Regions from separate parts of the Homo sapiens genome. Here all the other regions are linked to region 2. Evidence: fine-mapped expression QTL. A gene starts in region 2. Each other region holds a variant in brackets. All regions are shown on one strand. Distances are between the middles of the regions. Region 1 overlaps LOC101927045 (a long non-coding RNA gene). Region 2 holds the start of GMPR2 (guanosine monophosphate reductase 2). Region 3 overlaps TGM1 (transglutaminase 1). Region 4 holds the start of LOC105370412 (a long non-coding RNA gene).

What was found. PIP is the estimated chance that this variant, and not a neighbour inherited with it, causes the effect. A credible set is the group of variants that fine-mapping cannot tell apart.
Region 1: its variant is the best candidate, but not a certain one, in a credible set for the expression of GMPR2 in whole blood (INTERVAL, PIP 0.73).
Region 3: its variant is the best candidate, but not a certain one, in a credible set for the expression of GMPR2 in whole blood (TOPMed, PIP 0.68).
Region 4: its variant is the best candidate, but not a certain one, in a credible set for the expression of GMPR2 in whole blood (TOPMed, PIP 0.74).

What each region holds. Positions count from the first base shown.
Region 1 is chr14:24,456,782-24,462,236 of GRCh38, forward strand. The region is part of intron 2 of LOC101927045 (a long non-coding RNA gene); the gene reads left to right. Among named protein-coding and RNA genes, the nearest start is that of SDR39U1, 17 kb to the left of the region's middle. The variant G/A (reference allele first, on the strand shown) is at 2,054.
Region 2 is chr14:24,230,107-24,235,106 of GRCh38, forward strand. It overlaps GMPR2 (guanosine monophosphate reductase 2), which reads left to right and starts at 2,823. Exons shown (of 10, transcript NM_001002002.3): 1 at 2,823-2,871; 2 at 3,113-3,234; 3 at 3,373-3,492. The coding sequence starts at 3,148. NEDD8-MDP1 (NEDD8-MDP1 readthrough) reads right to left here and starts at 2,261. Exons shown (of 7, transcript NM_001199823.3): 1 at 2,144-2,261. The coding sequence starts at 2,161. NEDD8 (NEDD8 ubiquitin like modifier) reads right to left here and starts at 2,261. Exons shown (of 4, transcript NM_006156.3): 1 at 2,144-2,261. The coding sequence starts at 2,161. RefSeq lists enhancers at 2,125-2,990, 2,157-2,451.
Region 3 is chr14:24,253,301-24,258,300 of GRCh38, forward strand. TGM1 (transglutaminase 1) reads right to left here. Exons shown (of 15, transcript NM_000359.3): 9 at 4,985-5,000; 10 at 2,689-2,777; 11 at 2,064-2,217; 12 at 1,672-1,953; 13 at 1,364-1,524; 14 at 852-988. Among named protein-coding and RNA genes, the nearest start is that of TGM1, 7.4 kb to the right of the region's middle. The variant G/C (reference allele first, on the strand shown) is at 3,050.
Region 4 is chr14:24,064,571-24,069,938 of GRCh38, forward strand. It overlaps CARMIL3 (capping protein regulator and myosin 1 linker 3), which reads left to right. Exons shown (of 40, transcript NM_138360.4): 33 at 388-703; 34 at 1,052-1,180; 35 at 1,828-1,894; 36 at 1,997-2,086; 37 at 4,014-4,132; 38 at 4,216-4,396; 39 at 4,567-4,677; 40 at 4,809-5,159. The coding sequence ends at 4,834. LOC105370412 (a long non-coding RNA gene) reads right to left here and starts at 3,619. Exons shown (of 2, transcript XR_943619.2): 1 at 2,526-3,619; 2 at 2,214-2,427. The variant C/G (reference allele first, on the strand shown) is at 2,971.

The sequences.
Region 1 (5,455 bases), 230 kb after region 2:
CCCCTCAGGCTCACCTCTTGGTAATTTTTCACAGTCATTACTGCTCAGGCACCTTATTGTGAACTAGTTATATGTTGCTGTTAACAAATTATCTCAAAACTTAGTGGTTTGAAACAACAATAGTATTTATTATCTTTTACAGTCTTGTGGGTTAGGAATATGGTAGCAGTTTAGCTCGGTGGTTGTGAGGTGTGGCTCACAGTCTCTCATGAGGTTATACTCAAGATATCAGCTAGGGCTGCAATCATCTGGATACTTGACTGGGGCTGGAGGATCCTCTTTCAAAAAGCCTTGCTCACATGCTGTTGCAGGAGGCTTCATTCCTTGCTGATTGTTTCTCACCATGTGGACCTCTCCACATGGCTGCTTGAGTATCCTTATGACATGGCAGCTGGCTTCCCTGGAGTGAGTGATTCAAGAGAGTGAGAATGAGGAGAAAGCTTCAATACCTCTAATGACTAATCTAATCTCAGTGTAACATACAGTTACTTTTATCACAATCTATTTGTTAGATGTGAGTCACTGAGTTGAAGGGGTGAGAAATTTGGCTGTAAAACTTTTAAAGGGAATAGAGTCAAATAATTTGTTGGCACATTTTAAAACCAACACAAGCTCTGTGCTGCATTTAGGGCTTCTCTGAGATGCTTGTAGACTCTCTCAGTTGTGCCTGGGAATTGTGGTACAATCCTTGTTATTTTTAGATGCCTCTTTTACCTCTCCAGGTTTTCAAGCATCTCTCCTTACCTCCCTAGCTAGGCTCCTTCTCAGAGAGTTCAGGCAGCATTTATAATCTAGTTATGTTCTCTCCAAATCTTTTAGCTCCTTCCCTAAGCCCAGGGAAAGCTAGGTAATGGGCAACTGCTCTGACATCATAGCCAGTTTCTTTCCTACCCTCTGATTTATAAAACAAATTCCATGCTTGGTCTTCTCTCAACAAAACCCTTGCTCTTGAATTTCCTCCTTTCCAGGCTATTAGTTAGATATGGAATAAAACAACTTGCTTTTGAGAGTCAAAACTAAGGCTTGTCGGATTTGTTCCCTTACACTGCAGAGGGAAAAGGAAGTACTGAGAGGGAAAATACGTTGGGTAATATTGCAAAGCAAACTGGCTTTATACATGGCTAGATCCAGGTGCTTACATAATGTCATCAAGGATCCACATCTTTTTAATTCTCAGCTCTTATTTTTTGTTGGTTGACTTCATTCTCAGGAAGATTTTCTCCCTTTAGAGTGAGAATGAATTCTTGGCTTCTATTTCCAGCAGAGTAACTATTTCTCTTAATTCCATAAAGAATGTCAGAACTGACTCTTCTTGGACTGTTATGGGTCTCGTGCCATCTCTGAACCAACTATTGTGGCCAAGTATGGAGTTTTCTGCCTGGCCAGGCCTGAGTCGTGTGTCTACTGCTGGACCAGGGGTGGGGTAGCCCCACTCACTGTCCTCCACTGTGGAAACCCAGCTGAGCCCCTGAGGTGTTAAGGAACTCCTCCTCTCTTCAACAACGTTGACATTCCTTCCTTTCTCTCCTGGCTATGTCTTTCCTTCCAGTGAGCTGGGAGTTGTGCTGTAGAAGGTGAGAGGTGAGTGGGAGGGTTCCACTAAATTACATGCCTTTTAGAGTATAGATTTAAGAGGGTGGATGTCCATCAATATCCTCAAGGAGGTGAGATGGAAACCTCCTGCAGAGCTTTACACCCCTTGCGAAGAGGAGGTACATAGGGACAGAGCTCCCATTGCAGCAGCCAGCCCCTCATCTCCAGGGAGGCTGATGGAGAGCAGGCTCTGTCTGAATGTGTTCAGCTTTCCATCCAACCTCCTTAAAGCTGTCGTTCTTCTGGGTTCTGGGGATGGGTGGGTCAACTTCTCTCATCCTCCTCAGCCTCTCCTTTAGCAACTGAACTATTTTAGTTAAACTTTTTGCAGCTCTCAGAGTCCATCTGACACTTTGGAGGTTAAAACATTCAAACCTTAGACAACAAGACATGAGAAATTTTCATCTGCACATCTGGGCTTAGGGGCAAGTGCAGCTGGCTTTCCCTTTGGGAAGAAAAG[G/A]CTTCCTCCTGGGTCTGCAGCAATCACAAGTACTTTGAAATGGGACTGTTTTCCTCACAGCTGCTTCCTGAAACAACAAAAGGAGCTGAGCTCAGTCAACCTCTGGGGCATCAGGCCAGCCCTGCGGGGCAGGATAAAAAGTCAGAGAAGGATCCTGGCTGCTTCTTCAGCTTGGGCCAAGGCAGAGTGGGATGGGGGATTTGCTGGTGACAAGTGCCTCTGCCCCTTCCCAATGCCACCTGTGTGAATGTTCCCTGCTTCATTTTGTTGGAATAGATTTTTGTGACTTCTCTCAGGCTCTGAGATGTTACTTGCCAAATGCTATTCACATAACCATTTTACATATTTCTGTTACTGTATGGTAGAACCAATCAACTAACCAATTAATCGACCAACCAACCAAAATCCTAATTCTGGAGACACATTGGATAAAGGATCCTAGAAATCTCCCTTCCTTTTTATAAGATAGTCTGCTCTGACCTCAGGGTCTGGGGCCACAGGAACAGCATTCCTGAACCTCGATGTCTGTGGAGATGCCAGGTCTTCTCCAGGGGCTGCACCTTGTCTTCTTCTTTTTCCCTTCCACTAAGACTTTTAGATGCCCCCATCCCTAGTCTGACCCCTAACCAGACATCTGTTCCCAGTGGGACCTTTTGTAGGAGCTGAGAGACCTGGCCAGCCTCCAGCATCAGCTCCGTACCCTCCGTTGTTGGCCAGGACCTGCTGTGGAGAACAAGTGCCCTTGAGGTCTCTCTGCTCTTAGTTTCCAGGGCAGTGAATGAGAAATGCCCTCTTACATACTCTGACAGTGCTGGGGAGAGAAAGCTAAATAGATAGATAGATAGATAGATAGATAGATAGATAGATAATGATGTTAGTCTTTGGCCAGGCTGGACCTGAGAGGAACTGTTTAGCATGAGCAGCTCTTCTTGCACCACCAGAGGCTTCACCAGCCCAGCAATTCCATTTCCTACTCACTCAGAGGAAGGGCTACTGGCTGCAGTCTCTTGCCACTGTCTGGCTCTGTGCTGTAAAATGGCCACTGGGAGGCTTCTCCTGGGTCTGTTTTCCCCTGGCCCCAGCACAGGCCCTTCTGAAATTAATCTATGGAGAATGTATTTCTCCATCTCCACTGTGGCTGTGGCCCTTTCCCTACAGTCTACTCAGCCCCACATGAGTTGGGGGTAGTGGGAGGCTGGGCTCTGGGGAAGGGACCCAGGGAGATATGAGCAGGTGCTTGCAGGGAAGGTCAGCTTTCTCCAGCTCCTTTCTCATGGTAGACACTCAATTACAGGGCCTCCCAGGTGCTGGATAGCTCTGTGCTGGCAGAATGCTACTTCTCACACCCCTCCGCACAGCAGAGATGATGAGGGCTGGGCCTGATTTTCTCCCTGCACTCTGATATAATAAAGTTGTTGTCACTAGGACCTATTAAATCAGGCACTCATGGTAGTAAATGTGGAGATCAGGCAGCTTGGAAATCCTCAGGCACATGTGCATGTGGATGCGTGTGTGTGTCATGAAGACACAGGATAAAGTCTGTTGTCTGTGGCCCTGGGGGATTGAGGCAGTGATCACCAGAGCTGGCTTTATCTTTGCGTTCATGCGTCTTCTACCCACTCAGCTCACATTTCGTTATACCATTCAGCAGTTGGCAACCTGAGGGGTTCCTAGGGAGGGAGATGTAGGCTAGTCCATCTTCTCCTCCATGGATCAACATAGGCCAGACCCAGCTACAGGAGGCTGGACCACAACCAGCATGAAATTTTTGCTGAGTTTAGACAGAAGGTCACTACGTCACTGAGGTATCTCATTGAATACTTGATTAGATAGAGAAGGAGATGATGGAGAAGAAAGAAAGATGACAGGAGAGGATAAGGGGGTGGCCATGACAACAGAGGAAGAGAGAGGACTCAGAGGTTGTCCCCAAGGCTTAGACTCTAAATAATTAAGAGACAGCCCTGGGCTCAGTATCCAGGTTAGATCTGTGTAGGATCCCTGGGGCACTGAAGTTGAGGATGTAACTAGTGGCTTGAAGGTGGAGTTGAGAGGTTCAGGGTGCCTGGTGTGGATTGTGGGGATGAAGGTTACAACCAGGACCTTTTATGGACTGTTCACAGGACTCCACATCCAGGCAAAGGCCAGAGTATTGATTCTTAGATGAAATGCTGTTACACAGCATGGGGACTTCACTTTTTTGAGACTGAAGAACTTTGAGGGGAAATAAAATCTCTGAAGAGAAGCTAGGTTCCATCTACAGAGGTAGCATGGCTTAGTGCCTCTCATCCATTCTGTTGAAACAGCTCTTGTCAGTGACCTCTATGTTGCTAAATTCATTGATCTCAGATCACCACATACTTTGCCTCTCTGCAACATTTGTTTCAGTGGAAACACTTTCTTCACTGGTTTCCAGGACATGATTTGTCCTCCTCTTACCTCATTAGCCACAGCTCAGTCCCCTTGGCTGGCTTTGACTGTCACCTGATCTCTAAACATTGGCATACTGCAATCTTTGTCTTTGGGCCTCTTCTCCATGTAGGCTCACTCCTTAGTATGAATCTCAGGTTTTTGAATAGTGTCTAATGAATCCCAAGTTTCTGACTCCAGCCTGAATATTTTTCCTGAATTCTAGGCTTAAATATCAAACTACCTACCCAATGTTTGTATGTGGATGACTAATAGCCATCTAAACTTAACACACCCCATACCATTCTCTTGATTTCCATGGCCCCAAACTTGTTCCTTTGCTGGTTCTCCCAGTCTCAGCAAATGGCAGTGTAGTTTTCCCATTTGCTCAGGTCAAAATAAAAAACTTGGAGTCATCATTAACTCCCCCTGATCCATGAGCAGGAATGGTTGGATTTATCTCTAAAAGAAATCCATACATGCAATAAACCCATAATTAGGTATCTCACCATGTTCACTACAGCTACCATCTGGTACAAGTTAATGGCATCTTTGTCTGGATCATCATAAGGGCCTCCTTACTGGTTTTTCTGCCCTAACTCTTGCTCCCTTAGAATTTATTGTTCACTTGGTAGACGGAGCGATCCCTATAAAAACTTAAATCAATCATGCCACTCCTCTGCTCAAAGTCTTCCAATGGATTCTGGTTTCAGAATAAAAGCCAAAGATCTTATAAGATCTCAGGGGACCCTTGAGACCCCCAGTGATTTTGTCCTCACTTGTCTATATGACCTCACCTCCTGCCTGTCCTGCCCAAGTCACACTGGCTTCTCAGTATAGCGTGACAAACTTGCTTCTGCCCAGGGCCTTTTTGCTATTCCCCTGCTTGAAATGCCATGCCTCCAAATAGCCACATGGCTCTCCCAGACCTCACTTCCTTCAGGTCTCTAATCAAATGTCTTATTAGACATTATTGACCAGCATATTTAAAATCGG
Region 2 (5,000 bases):
TGACAGTGATCCATTCTAAAAATTAGTATGAACTAGTAACACCCCCTGTGTAATATACATATAAAATAAAATAAAAAATTTCAGGCCTGGCAACAGAGTGAGACTCTGTCTCAAAAAAAAAAAAAAAAAAAAAAAAAAAGGCCAGGCACGGGGGAGGGTGGCTCACACCTGTAATCCCAGCACTTTGGGAGGCAGAGGCGGGCGGATCACGAGGTCAGGAGATCGAGACCATCCTGGCTAACATGGTGAAACCCTGTCTCTACTAAAAATACAAAAAAATTAGCTGGGCGTGGTGGCAGGCGCCTGTAGTCCCAGCTACTCGGGAGGCTGAGGCAGGAGAATGGCATGAACCCGGGAGGCGAAGCTTGCAGTGAGCCGAGATGGCGCCACTGCACTCCAGCCTGGGCGACAGAGCGAGACTCTGTCTCAAAAAAAAAAAAAAAAAAAATCATAAAACAATATCCTTACCTAGCACTATATTATTTCCTATTTTCTCCCCCTCTCTCTTTCTTTTTTTTTTTTGCAGGGGGAGATGGAGTTTCACTCTTGTCGCCCAGGCTGGAGTGCAATGGCGCCATCTCAGCTCACTGCAATCTCCGCCTCCCAGGTTCAAGGGATTCTCCTGCCTTAGCCTCCGAGTAGCTGGGATTATAGGCGCCCACCACCACGCCCGGCTAGTTTTTGTATTGTTAGTAGAGGCGGGGTTTCACCATGTTGGCCAGGCTGGTCTTGAACTCCTCACCTTAGGTGATCCACCCACCTCGGCCTCCCAAAGTGCTGGGATTACAGGCGTGAGCCACTGGGCCCGGCCTTTTTTTTCAGGCAGGGTCTGGAGTGCAGTGGTGCCATCACTGCTCACCGCGGCTTCGACATCCCAGGATCAATCAATCCTCCCATCTCGGCCTCCCGAATAGCTGGGCCTACAGGCATGCGCCCAGACCCTTGGCTAATTTTTTGAATTTATTGTACAGGCAGGGTTTCGCCATGTTGCCCAGGATGGTCTCCAACTCCTGGGCTCAAGCGATCGGCCTGCCTCGGCCTTCCAAAGTGCTGGGATTACAGGCGTGAGCCACCGCGCCCAGCCTATTTTCTCTTTTTAATGGCGCCAGTGACCCATTCACCTATTAAATTGATGTTACGACTCTTATATAGGCCGCTACTCAACGTTAAAAAAAATCATCTTTAACATACTATTTTAATACTAGACCTCAAATCTTAGCTAAGAAGTAGTTTGGAAGGACTGGGGAAGAGAAGGTTAAGAATGACTATTATGTACGGTAAATATGCTAAGAAGCTGATGAAATAACGATAGATTTACTTAGCTACAAAAAGGCCAAACTAGCATTAGACTTCACTTGTCAGCAGTTTTGTTTTTTTGAGGGGGGCGTGGGGGGGGGGGTCTCTGTCTGTCTGAAGGCACAAAAGAGGAAACAGCAGATAGGACTAACGAGGGCTGGAAATTGGTGAAGAACCACCACGGGAGTTGAGAGATGCAGATGAAGGAAACCATGGCTAGTAGCAAGAACTAGGGCAGCGGTAACTAACCTGCCTCAGCCAAGGAAGTGAGGCTGGTCCAGGATGCCAGGCTCAGAAAGGCAGGTACTGACTGAACACACTCCCCGCTTTGGTTCCTGTAGGACGGGTGAGATACCACACCTTGGCAACCACCAGTAAAGGCTCATAGTCTAGCCCTTGGGAGGCCCCGATTTTAGGGCTGTGCTCGGAGGCGACCTACGTTAGGGACTGGGAGAAGCAGGTACCCTGGGAATGAAGAATGGAGAGCAGCGCTTACTCCAAGAATCTGAGAGACGGGGGAGTCAAGCCGCTGCTAGGCCTTCTCTATGACTGCGGGGGTTCGAATACAGTGAGACCCGACAAAAGCGACCCCATTCTGGGTGATAGCACAGTCCTGGCAAAAAAGCAGGCATGGCAAAATACCCCAGGGTCGTCAGGTGGGACCTGGGCCCCGCTCTCAAAGCCCTTCTGGGTCCCCCTATTTCCCACCACCCCTCGCGCGGAGCCCTGAGGCAGTCAGCGTCCTCCAGGCTAGGGAAAGGCGTGGTTTTCCTTCCCCACGTCTCCCGTAAGGCACTGCTGCCAGCCCAGTACTACTGCGTCTTGGCAAGGCTGGAGGTGCTCCCACCTTCACTTTAATTAGCATCTTCTTTCCAGTTTGGGGCTGCACACGGATAAATTGCTGCTCCTACCGCTCCGGTCGCCGCTGCCGCCCTCCAGCACTCTTGCCTGCAAGGGCCACTTCTACTTCCGGGTCACTGTCTGGCTCCACCCCCCCCCCCCCCCCCACTGGGTTCCGGAAAGGCTCAGGGTTGCTCCCGCGTTTCGGTTCAGTGACGTCGTAAATTGGAATGAGGCATCCAGTTTAGCAACAGCAGAGATGACGACTCTGCGATTCTGAGAGTCCCTGGCGAGCCCGGGCTAGCGAAAAGTGGGGGCAGAACGAACTACATCTCCCATCGTGCCAGGAGGCGGTCCCGCCCGTTTCCCCCTGGGAGTTGTAGTCTAACCCCCTCGGATCCAACAGCAACCTCAGTGCGTGAACTCTGTTATCCAGAAGGCCTCGCCCTGCCGCCGCCGAAGCTGGAATTCGTCGGCTAGTAGTTCTCGCCGGCAACTAGAGGAACCTGTTGGCGTGGCCCAGAAGGCTTAGCGGGATTGCACGAGGTTAGTTGCTAAGCAAGGTGGTCTTTGGTCAACTGCCGCCTGGACCAAGGCAACAGGAAGTGAGTACCTCTATTCCGGAAACTAGTTATGAACCCTCCCCGCCCCCCGTCGCCAACATTCCTTCGTTCCCCTAAATCAGCCTCTTGCCCCATTGCTCTTTGCAGGGGTAGAAGAAGGAAGTGTAGCGGGGTAAGGAATGCACCGTCAGGGTCTCTCACAACCCTTTCCCAGCTCTCCTCCCCAACAAACAGTACCTGGGATGGAGCCCTAGGGTAATCGCAGCCACGGGATGGGTCGAGGTGACAGGCTTCAGGGACCACACTTCGGCCTTTGCCCGACCTTCCACAACTTAAGCGAAGAGAGGCCACCAGCCGTAACAGGGCGTTAAAGCCCAGGGGAAGATTGGTCCTTATGACTTCCTGCCTTCCAGCCCTCAGATTCATCGCTACCCCGAGGCTAAGCGCCATGCCTCATATTGACAACGATGTGAAACTGGACTTCAAGGATGTCCTTTTGAGGCCCAAACGCAGTACCCTTAAGTCTCGAAGTGAGGTGAGCAAGCTTCTCTACTTGCTGTTTCTTGACCCCACGCTCCCGGTGGGCCACAACCAAGAAAGATGCCTGTCCTTGTCCTAATATGGTACGTTTTTTGGATTAATGAAATGGTCAATTTCCTGTTCATATCTGCAGGTGGATCTCACAAGATCCTTTTCATTTCGGAACTCAAAGCAGACATACTCTGGGGTTCCCATCATTGCTGCCAATATGGATACTGTGGGCACCTTTGAGATGGCCAAGGTTCTCTGTAAGGTAGGGCTTTCCTCATGCCCCATCCCTATTGGTGTCCAGTTAGCCCAGCTGACTGCAGAGGTGTTTGCATCCCCACCCCCATGCCCAGTCAGTTCTCTGGCAGTTAGCAGTCAGGATGCTCTGATTTACGGTTTTTTCCACTACTGAAGCCCTTTATCTGATAAGTTCAAAAGGCCATCTGAATTAGTGAGATTCAAAGCTAAGTTCTGCTCCGATATTTCTGATATATGAACAGAATTTTCCCTTTTGTCCTGTTTAGCAGTTTGTACACCTTGCCAACTTTTCCCACCACCCAGGTCACCCCCTCACAGTCACATGCATCCCTTCAGTTATGCGATTGTCCACATTAAGCATTCACTGTTTTAGTCCAGAAACTACAGTTTAAGCATTCAAAAATCCTAACTAGAAGATCCTAGGAGAAGCAGCTTATTAATTTTCTTTAATAAGAACAATTCATTAATAAAAGAATACTTCTGCCATTCTTTTTTTAATCTTCCTCTTCTTTAAGTCCTAGGTTCCTGGGAGTTTCTGGGATGTGCCCCAAATGGGATGTGTTTTTCTTATATACAAGTTGTTCACTTTGAAATGGAAGATGCTGCTCCTGTCAGTACTATTACCTGCCTCTATACTTGTTGCTGAGAAGGTAGAGAGTTATCTGGGCACTTTGAGAACATATGCACTCTGCTGGTTGATCCATGTAGCCCTGGTTGATGAATTCTGCTATTGTTTGTGGCTCCATTAGTCTTAAGGACTTCATATCCTTTTTCTATTTTTGATTGCTGTGTCTTTGTGGAATGTCTTGTCATTTCTTTAAGGTTGATAGTTATGCAGTTTTATTTTTACTTTATTTTTATTGCCATTCAGTAACTGCTTAGGAATCTTTCTGTTGCCCACTGTCCATCTGCCCTGACCAGTAGAGTTCAGAATTGGTGACTCTGACTGCAGAGTTAACAGGCGTGCTGTAATACATGAACCTTTTTGGGGACTGTCTTGATGCTTTATGTGGAGCCTGGCTTTCAGTATTGCTGACGAGAGGTAAAGAAATCAGGTTTTAGAGATAAGAGCCAAGTCTTACTGTAATAAAAAGGTTGGATGCAAGCAAACATCTTTTTCTAAGTTTGGTATGTAATCTGATGTGCTCATCATGCCACACTCTGCCAGTATATCTCCAACATCTGCTGACTTCCTATCCTATGGTGACTTTTCTTTGCTTATCAGTATGTTGATGATAGAGTTGTTGAGAAAGCAGAATTCAATACCAGCTTTAGCTAGATATTGTTGATCTCTGAGTACGTATGTAGAGCACTTGTTGCTAGCTAATACATGACTTCCTTGGGTTTCTTGTTAGTTGCAAGATTTGTGCTGTTTCAGCCAACTGCTGTCTCTTGTCTGTTTGCATGTAGACATGTAAGGCACAAACACCAGCATACACAATGGCCTTTGAATGCCTTCCTCAAAGTATTGGGATATTGTTTGCAATCTGTTGAGCTAGAGAATATGAGTTTGAT
Region 3 (5,000 bases), 23 kb after region 2:
GGGGCTATTGCTATCCCTGCTTTACAGGTGAGAACACTGAGGCTTGAAGGAGAGAAGTCGCTTGCCCAAGGGCATATAGCCAGTAAGTGCTAGAGCTGAACCCGTATCATTAGGATTCCAAAACTTCGCTTGTGTGTGTGTGTCTCTGTGTGTGTGTGTGTGTCTGTGTGTGTGTGTGACAGAGAGAGAGAGAGACACACGGGGTCTCACTCTGTCGCCCAGGCTGGAGTGCAGTGGCACAAACATGGCTCACTTCAGCCTCAACCTCTCCAGGCTCAGGTGATCCTCCCACCTTAGACTCCCAAGTAGCTGGGACAACAGGCGCACAGCACCAAACCTGGTTAATTTTTTAAAAATTTTTTGTAGAAACAGGGTTTCATCATGTTGCCCAGGCTGGTCTCCAACTCCTGGGCTCAAGTGATCCACTCACCTTGGCCTGCCAAAGTGCTGGGATTACAGGTGTGAGCCACCACACCTGGCCTTCTAATGTACTTAAATTAGAGTTTTTGTGTCCAAAGGAGATAATATTCCTGAAAGGGCCTGGTCAATTCTTCAGTGCTGGGCAAATATTAGCAATGAGTTACTAATGATTCCTATGTGGGCCTTCTGCTCCCTAATTAGATAGTGAGGCAGGGCAAGGACATGGCATAGCACCAGGTGCCCAAGAGGTCTCCCTAAAGGCTGGTGGGACTGAGCTGGGCCGGGAGGTATTGCTAGCTGGCCCCAACCTGCTTGGTTGGGTCCTGACAGAACATACTTGTCCAGACAGAGAGGGAGCAAAGCTGGGAGCCAGGGCAGCCTGTGGGGAAGGCCAGAGTGGAAGCAGGGGTAGGGGGAGAGGCCAGACTCACCCAACGTTGAGGATCTTGGGCCTCTGTAACCCAGAGCCTTCGAGCCGGAAGACGACATTGGTGAGGGTGACGGGAAGGGGGTTCTTGAAGACAATCTGTACTTCACACTCCTGGCCAACCACTGCTGCTCCCAGTAACTGAGAGAAAAAGAGGCCCATCCCCCACGTCAGAGACCCTGGCCAAACACACGGGGACCGTACACTGCACCAGAGAGGGGAAGCTGCTTAGAAGCAAAACCTCCCCGAGTCCCACATTTATCCTCCTGAGAGAAGATTCCCCAGAAGTCAGAGAAGAAACTCCAACCTATTCCTCAATAAAGGCTGTCACAGAACCAGAGACATAAGATCCCATGCTACAGATGAGGAAACTGAGGCCCCAGAGCCGGTCCTTGACCTTCTCCTACAAAGGCTCATCAGGCCAGCCTGCTGCTGGCTTAGCGCCCACCTCTGATGTCCTTATCCCCTGGCCTTCACTCTCTGACCACCCCTCATGCCCCAGCAAACTGCATTCACCGTGAGGGAGAGGTCTGGGGTGCGCAGACGGAAGGTGTGCTGCTTGGCCAGCACCTGCCCGCTCTCCTTGACGTGGCCTGAGACATTGAGCAGCATGGCCCCCTGGTCCACAAGATGGGGCCGGTATTCCTTGTAGGCCACTGGCATGGTCACACGGTCCGCTGTGGAGAAGAGGCATGGCGTCACTGAGGCCTGCTTCCCTACATGAGGCTTCCCCCAGGGACTCCCCACTGCTCCTGGGGTCTCCATGTCCACAGCCCTGAGGTGCCCAGCCATCCAGGGGGCAGGGCTGGGTAAGGAGCACTTACAGGCCCCTGGTGCCAGCTCCACTTCCTTCTTGGTCTCCTTGAAGATGGTACCACTGACACCAGTATAGAAAGTGACTGAGAGGTAGAGGTGCAGTTTCACTGTGCGGCGGCTGCTGCTGTGATTGATCAGCATCACAGAGACCATCAGATCCTGCCCCATCACCGCGTCCTGTGCCTCCACCTGCATGGCCACATCCTCCGCTGAGCCCCGGTTGGCATACACATTGGGTTTGCTGCCGTGGGCTGCTGCTGTCTCTACTGCCTTCCGCTCTGCGTCTGAGCCTGGGGGTTGAGGGTCAAGGGTGAGGTTCCAATTCCCACGTGGGTGGCCAAGCACTTGGCAGGAACACTTGTTGTGGGGCCCAGAGCTGGCTGGGTTGGGGGAATGGTACCTTCTGGGTGCTTATAGAGGTAGGTGATGTCCTCCCGCATGTTGGAGCTGATGGCCTTTGTGACAATGAGTGTGCCGATGGCCTTCTCCTCCACATAAACAATCTTGAAGCTGCCATCATCCTGCCGCTGCCAGTACACCTTGTCACTATTCACCTGTGGGGGGTGGGGGTGAGCAGGAATGAGTGAGCCAGAGGGTCTGAGGGTGGCCTGACTCCCGGCCTCCTTCCCCTGATCCCAGGAGCTATGGGACAGGGCTTGGTCCCAAGGGTGGGAGCTTCCTGGCAGAGCCCAAGGGGAGACTTTCCAAGACGAGCCAGACGAGGCCAGAGTGCAGGGAAGAAGCTGGTCTGGGAGGCTCCTGGCAGAGCACTTTGGCAATATCAGTAATCCCTCACACTCAATGGCTGACTTTACGACTAGTGAAGCAGTTTCATACCCGTTATCTCTTCTGATCCCGAGTATAGGAAGCAAGGCAGCCTTGATTATCCCCTTTTACAGGTGAGGAAACTGACTTGTATAATGAGTGACTTGCCCCGGGTCGCAGAGCTGGTCAGTCAGCGGTGAAGTTGGGACCAGAGAACCCATGACTGAAGCCCAAGAAGGCACCTGGAGCCCAGCCCTCACCTCAGCAAAAATGAAAGGCGTGTCGTACTTCATGTAGACCAGGCCATTCTTGATGGACTCCACAGAGCAGGGGCCGCAGCAGAAGATGCCTAGAGAGTGAGGCGGGACAGAGGCAAGAGATCTGAGAAGGCGGAGAGGGCTCTTCAGACCCTGGGTAAGGTCCACACAGGGCCCCAGCCCCACCCACTCAGGCCCGGTCCCACTGCCTGGTGGCCTCTGGAACAAGGTCATCAGCCCTGACCCAAACACTTGGGGGTCAGTTGACAGCCAGTGCAACACAGGTATGGAAAACAAAGAGAGAGCGGCTCCATTTGGCTCTCAATCTGCTTTCCTCAGCCCAGGCTGCTCTGCTGGAGGATGG[G/C]GGCAGGGTACAGATGTGCGGACCAGCCTGCCTGATAACCAAGTCCCTGACATACTCTTTCATGGCTGGCTGACACTGGATGTCCACCATCTGTGACCCCCAGAGGACAGGACGCCCCATCCTTTATCATAACCAACCCAGAGTCCACAGTGGCCCTGCCTGCTGGCTGGGAGAGCGAGGACACCACCGCCACCACCATTCCAGAGAGATGCGGAACAACCCTCAGCTCTGCAGCCTGCTGCCCTTTCTACTGGGGGGAGCTGGTGGGAAATAGAGTCTGCCCTTATCATACTCAGGAGGCTGTCTAGAAGAGATAGGCTGACAGGAAGAGGCCTGGCAAGAGAGGACAGAGTGGTAAGTGAGTACCATCCAACCGGAAAGAATCTTAGACAAGACATAACACTACACACTCCTTTACAGACGGGGAAACAGCAAGGTGAAGTTCATGCCAGGATCTCACAAGACAGGTGGTGCAGGGAGAATGAAAGGAGCTCAGACTTTTTGAGTAGCTGCTACACTCCCGGCATGCTGCTGGTCCCTTCAGATACAGAATTTCTCATTTAATCCTCCCAATCACCATATATGGTATCTATTACCCCAAATTACATCCAAACCACCAAAGCCTAAAAGTTCGAGGTGCTTGCCCAAGAGCATACATCTGAGAAGTGATCAGGCTGGGATCAAGCCCCAGTCTGGCTGGCCCTGAGCCCCCTGCCTGATGTCCACCCCACCACTTCCCAGAGTTGGGGGCCAGAGCTCAGATCTGCCAGCGTCTGGGACAGGCTGTTTCAGCATCACAGGCATCACCGGGTTGCACAGCTCATGGGGCTGTGTTCACATATCTGAGTGAGAGGGAGGGCACTGGGAAGAGGCCAGGGGAGGAATGTAGGCTAGGGAGGACTCTCTGACCTGGGGTAAGGGAGAGGCTGGACAGAAGGTAGCTGGCAGGGCAGGCCTGGTGGCCTGGGGCTGGGGTATCACGGTAAGAAGGGGTGGGGGTTTGTTTGAGAACAGAGTGTATGGTAGTTCTAATTTCTGCAGAAACACATGTATGTGGACACAGAAAAGAGACCCGTTGGTTATATTAACAGTAATTATATATTAAGGCAGGGTCATAAGGGCTATTTTCTTCTTTGAACCTATCTGAGCCCTGATTTTTTTCTATGCTGTATATATAACTCACAGTGAGCAATGGAACAGACAGGAAGGAACTCGTTGAAAGCAAGAGTATGTGCTTAAAAGGACTGGACTTGCTCTGTCACTGACCTACCACTCTGTGCCCCAGAGGAGGTCACTCCATCTCTCTGGCCACCCTTTGGAGTGGGTCAAAAAATCCGGCTGATCGTCAGAATCACCAGAAGAACTTTCAAAAATATACATTGTTAGCATCTATCCTGGGAAAGTCTAATGTATCAGGTTTGGAGTAGAACCTAGAAATTTACTTTAAAAATATTTTTGAAAAAAAACCCAAATACCTCCTGAGAGAGAATAGGGAAGCTTTACATTTTGTGTTGTTCAATTCTATACTTTTTTTTTCCTTCCAAGCATGTATTACTTATAAAAATGACTTTAAAATGGTCCTTCAGTTAATTATCTCCAGGATATGTAAGTTAAAAAGCAAGTAAGAATAGTGAATATGAATTCTTTCTCTGAATACTCTTCCAGCTTTTGAATTTTGAACCTCCCTTGTATATTAACCATTATAAATAAAATAAACCATTATAAATAAGTAAAATGTAGGCAAATAGAGAGTTATATAGAATGGTAAAAATAAACTAACATCCACGTGGTGGTTCAGCTGACAAACCCGTTTAAGAAGCCGCGGGGTTACATGGCTTGGCTCTCCGGCCCGGCCCAGCACTGACACTCTGGACTGTGTTAATCAGGTGGGGGAGATAAGCAGGGGCATGGTGGGGAGTGGGGGGCCCAGCTTACCACTGCTAGTCTCTTG
Region 4 (5,368 bases), 170 kb before region 2:
CAGTGGGGTTGGAGAGCAGGTGTGGATGAGAGGGAGGTGGGGGGCAGCCCTGGGACAGGATACCCATTAGTGGTGAGAGGCCCGGGGGGTAGTGTTCCCTGTCACTGTCCTGCAGACTGCCCAGGGTCTGTCCAGGAGGAGCCAGGTCACTTGGAGAAGCTGAGAGGAGTTGCAGGGGAGGTGCCTGGGAAGAAACATCAGTCTGCGGGAAAGGCTGCTGGAGGATTACAACGGGACAGGAAAGGCAAGGGCATCATCTCCCTGAGAACTAAGTGGAAAGGGCTGCAGTGCAGCAGGGGAGACCAGATGAGAGGAAAGCAGGTTTATCAGACCCAGGATTGAGCTTGCATCTGGCATTTGTTGCTAACTTACCCCGATTCTCCCCAGCTACCCCCGGACTCTGAGGACCGTGCGGCCAGGACTCTCGGAGGCACCGCTGCCTCCACTCCAGAAGAAGAGGCGCCGGGGCCTGTTTCACTTTCGCCGGCCCCGGAGCTTCAAGGGGGACAGGGGGCCGGGGTCCCCTACCACTGGACTCCTCCTCCCTCCACCCCCACCCCCTCCCCCGACTCAGGAGAGCCCCCCTAGCCCAGACCCCCCAAGCCTCGGCAATAACTCCTCTCCCTGCTGGAGCCCAGAGGAGGAGAGCAGCCTCCTCCCTGGATTTGGTGGGGGCCGGGGACCTTCCTTCCGCCGGAAGATGGTAAGTGAGGCAGGGGGTGCTGTGTCTTCCCCTTTTCCTGCCCCACACTTAACCCAGTCTCCTACCCCACCCCAAGCTTAATGGGAGAATGCTAGGACCCAGGGTTCTTGGGAACATTGGTCATTTCAATTCTCCTCTCCTTGAGAGTGGACTAAGACCCAGTGGCCAAGAGCATGCTGGGAGTGCTATATGCGAATGCAGGCGTTGGAAGGACTCTTCAGAGGGTCTCTGCAGGGCTTCCCCGTGGCTAGGGACTCAGTGAGGCAGGGGTCCTCCTGACAACTCCCTCACAGCCTGGGGAGCCCCCTTCGACTGGGAACTGCTAATAAATAAGAGACCTTGTTCTAGGGCACTGAGGGGTCAGAGCCAGGGGAGGGGGGCCCAGCCCCTGGGACAGCACAGCAGCCAAGGGTTCACGGTGTTGCCCTTCCCGGGTTGGAAAGAGCCAAGGGTTGGAGCTTCGATGGGAAACGAGAGGTGAGTGGAGCCTGGGACAACAAACTGTGGGTCCTGAGGGTATCTGTCCACCACCCTCTCCTTCCCACTCCCTCATCCCTGGTGGTTCAGTAGAGAAAGCAGATGCTTTGGCATTAGAAGATGTTAGCTGCTCTTCAGCCCCCACCACACACTTGCCGTGGAGCCCTGGACTGGTCACTTCACCTCCTGAAACCTCTCCTTCTTTACTGTAAAATGAGGGGTTATAAAAATACTTACCTCTAGAGCTCTGTTTCCCAAACAATGGTGACTTGATTATAACCTTTGCGACTGATTTTTACCTGAATTATTACTTACATAGTATTTTTATTTAAATTAACTCACCTTTTTTTAACTTAGGCTAGACCTAGACATTATCTTTAAAATCGCAGGCTTTTTGAATGAGTCGTGTTTTTTTCTACTACATGTAAAATACATATGTAACTATAAAGATGGAAGTATACTCATTTGTGTAAGCCATTTCTTGTGCCCCTGGGGAGGTATGGGTGCCACTCTTTGGGAAACAGTTTTAAGTGTCTAGGGACTAATGACATGAGAATGACATGGAGATGCTAGAGCAGAAGCCCTTTGTCAGCTGCAGTCCTGCCACAGAGGAGACTTTCTTACAACCTGACCCACTGTTCTTTCAGGGCCCAGGCCCAGACCAGGAGGGCAGCACCCAGGCCTGGCAGAAACGGCGCTCTTCAGACGACGCAGGTAAGAACAGTCACATTCAAAGCCCTTTTGGACCCCTCTCTCAGGGGTCAAATTTACCTTTTCCCTTTCTCCTCTCTTTCTCATCCCCTCTCTCTACTCCAGGGCCTGGATCCTGGAAGCCCCCACCACCGCCCCAAAGCACCAAACCAAGCTTCAGCGCCATGCGCAGAGCAGAGGCCACATGGCACATAGGTATGGAAAGCCTCTTTTCAGGCAGCAGTACTGAAAGCCCAGGGTGTGTCCAAAGAAACAGAAGCCCATGGCCCCTGTGCTGGGGAATTTATGGCCAAGGTGGGGCAGTGAGAAGTCAACACAGTGAAAATGTTTAAGGATATTTACAAAGCTATATCCAAAAGAGACAAACAACCCAATCCAAAGAAAGCTTCTACAGAACAAAAGCGGCTTCTCCAGTGTTGGCAAACAGGAGCGATGCTTTGTGGATGGCTCTGGCGAATTCTCCAGGGCAGGTGCAGCCTCTGGTCACCATTGGCACAGTGGCAGCCTCTGTAGACAAGGCTCCTCTCTGCACCTTGCTGGGAAGAGGGTGGGCAAGTCAAACTGCCAGCAAGTACCAGCTGTGCCAGGCCCACCTCAGATTCCAGCCTCCTCCAGAAGTCGTTTATCAACTCACCCTCAGCTCACGCAGAAAGGTGCCCCAAACATGGGCAAGAGCTCGCCTCGGAGGTCAGAAACCTGCAGTATTAGTCCTTCTCAGCCACCCGCGACCTTAAACAAGTCATTTACTTTCTGGCCCCATGACCGGAGGAGTAAAAGGGAGGGGATTATCCCAGGCATGACACTTCCTTTCTGCTGGCTTCAGAGCACCTTCCGCTTAGGGAGCCACTAAAGAAAAGCTGGTCAGCTCAGCATTCGCTCAGTCCAGCAGTTGCCAAAGGCCTGGACCATGACCCTCCAGCAATATTGACATAGACAAAATCTCTCTGTAGATGGAGACACCCCCTCAGCCTCTTTCACTCCCACCACCAGGCTAGGGCGTAAGGGCTGGAAAGAGCTAAGAGCTGAGCGGGCTGGTCTGGCTTGAGCCACATGCTCCCCACTGTCCTATCCCACCCATT[C/G]TGCATCTGCCCCTCTCTCCCCTGTAGTGCAGAATCAGGCTAGCCTGAGACTTGGAGTGCCTGTGTCCTTGCCTCCTCCTCCAAGGCCAACCCAGCACTGGGGGCATCTTTGCTGATTTTTTCCATCCCATACACAGGCTAATTAAAGCGCCCCAAAGTAGGGCTCCATCTTTCATTTAGGAAACCGCAATAGTCAGTTGCCCCACTGCACACACACCTCACAGATCCACATGCAGACAACACTTTCCAGTGTCAGAGCCACAGGCTCATGTTGCTTAAAGGCCACTGGGGCGGAGGATGAGTGTGCCAGGGCACCCCTCCATCTAAATCAGACTTTCAGACAGAGTTCTGGGAATGCCAGGCTGCAGCCTTGGCAGAGCCCCCAGGGCACTGCAGCCTGGATGGGCAGCATGCCTGTGGACCCAGCAGGCCCTGGGCCCTGCCCCAGCAGGAAAGGGGTTGGGCACTGCTCTGCAAGAGGGACAGCTAGGCCAGAGTCCCCTCCAGAGGTGATGGCCTCAGGATGATCCTGGGAAACAAGGGCTAAGGAGCGTGGATGTAGAAAGGCATATGAAAGACCGGGTGCGGTGGCTCATGCCTGTAATCCCAACACTTTGGGAGACCGAGGTAGGTGGATCACTAGGTCAAGAGATCGAGACAATCCTGGCCAACACGGTGAAACCCTGTCTCTACTAAAAATACAAAAATTAGCTGGGCGTGGTGGCACGCACCTGTAGTCCCAGTTGTTCGGGAGGCTGAGACAGGAGAATCGCTCAAACCCGAGAGGTGGAGGTTGCAGTGAGCCAAGATTGCACCACTGTACTCCAGCCTGGGTGACAGAGCAAAACTCCATCTCCAAAAAAAAAAAAAGAAAGAAAGAAAGAAAAGAAAAAAAAAAGGCACATGAAAGGCAGAGACATAGGAGCAAGTGGGCTTGGAGGGAGAAAGTCCTGGCCTCCAGGGCTTCAGTGGAGAGAGGAGACAGGGACAGGAGCTATGCAAGAATGCCTTTTCCTGCAGCTTCTCCTCTCTCTCATCCCCAGCTGAAGAGAGTGCCCCCAACCACAGCTGCCAGAGTCCCAGCCCAGCCTCCCAAGATGGGGAAGAGGAGAAGGAGGGGACCCTCTTCCCAGAGAGGACACTTCCAGCTAGGAATGCCAAGGTGAGAGCTGGCAAGATGGGTGGGGGAGGCACTTTGATGAGGCAAAGGGACTAACTGACCCAGCATCTTCCTTCCTCTGCCAGCTACAGGACCCCGCTCTAGCTCCATGGCCTCCCAAGCCAGTGGCTGTGCCCAGGGGCCGCCAGCCTCCCCAGGAGCCAGGGGTCAGGGAGGAGGCTGAGGCTGGAGATGCAGCTCCAGGAGTCAACAAACCCCGGCTGAGGCTGAGCTCACAGCAAGACCAAGAGGAGCCCGAAGTCCAAGGTCTGCCACCCTGGCTGAGTGGGGGGCTCAGGGCACCTCTAGGACTTTGCTGTCCACATCAGGTCCTCTTCCAGAGCATGGAATGAGTGACAACCAGGAGTCACAGCCTGGATGAGCATCCCAGCATGAGCCCCACTCCTGTGTTAGGCCTGCCTTGATTGTTATTTCAGGGCCCCCTGATCCAGGCCGGCGGACTGCCCCCCTGAAGCCCAAGAGGACACGGCGGGCACAGTCCTGTGACAAGCTGGAACCTGATAGAAGACGGCCTCCTGACCCCACAGGTGCTGGTGGTGAGAGGGCAGGTCCCCCCTTCCCACCTATCTGTCCAACATGACACCCCCCGAAGCCCCAACACCAGGTGGCTGGCTGTCCCTGCCCAGGAAACAGGGCTCCCTGGATTTGTCCCCAGCAGGAACCAGTGAGCCAGGAACAGACTGACAACTGCCACAACACCCTCCTCAGCCCTCGACATGTGCCTCGCAAGGACTCAGACCCCTATCCACCCCCAGTCCCCAGGGCCCCCTGCCAGCCCCTGTCCTACAGGGGCAAGACGGCAGGACCAGGCATGGGGGAGCTGGAGGCAGGGACTAGAACAGAGGGAGCCACCTGGAGAGACGGAGGCTGTCAGTGCCTGCCTCGATACCTCTCTCTGCAGAGAGCTTCTGGGTGGGGGCTTATCTCCTCCCCCAGGAGGGTGGATCTCTGTCCCTCTATCCCCAGGGACTCTCTCCCCTCTTGTATAGAATAAAAAAACAAAATCATCGCCTGCCTCGAGTCTCTGCTATCTTCCCCATTCACTGCCTCCACAATCTGCTCTCTTCCCACAAACCCTCAGAGCTTGGCCACAGTGGAGAAAAATGAGAAACATTCCACAGGGATAGACTTGGGGTTCTGAGAGGAGCAGGAGAAAAAAACAGAGAACTGCCGAGGGAAGGGGACTGATAAGTCCCCAAGCCAAGATGGGTGTTATGC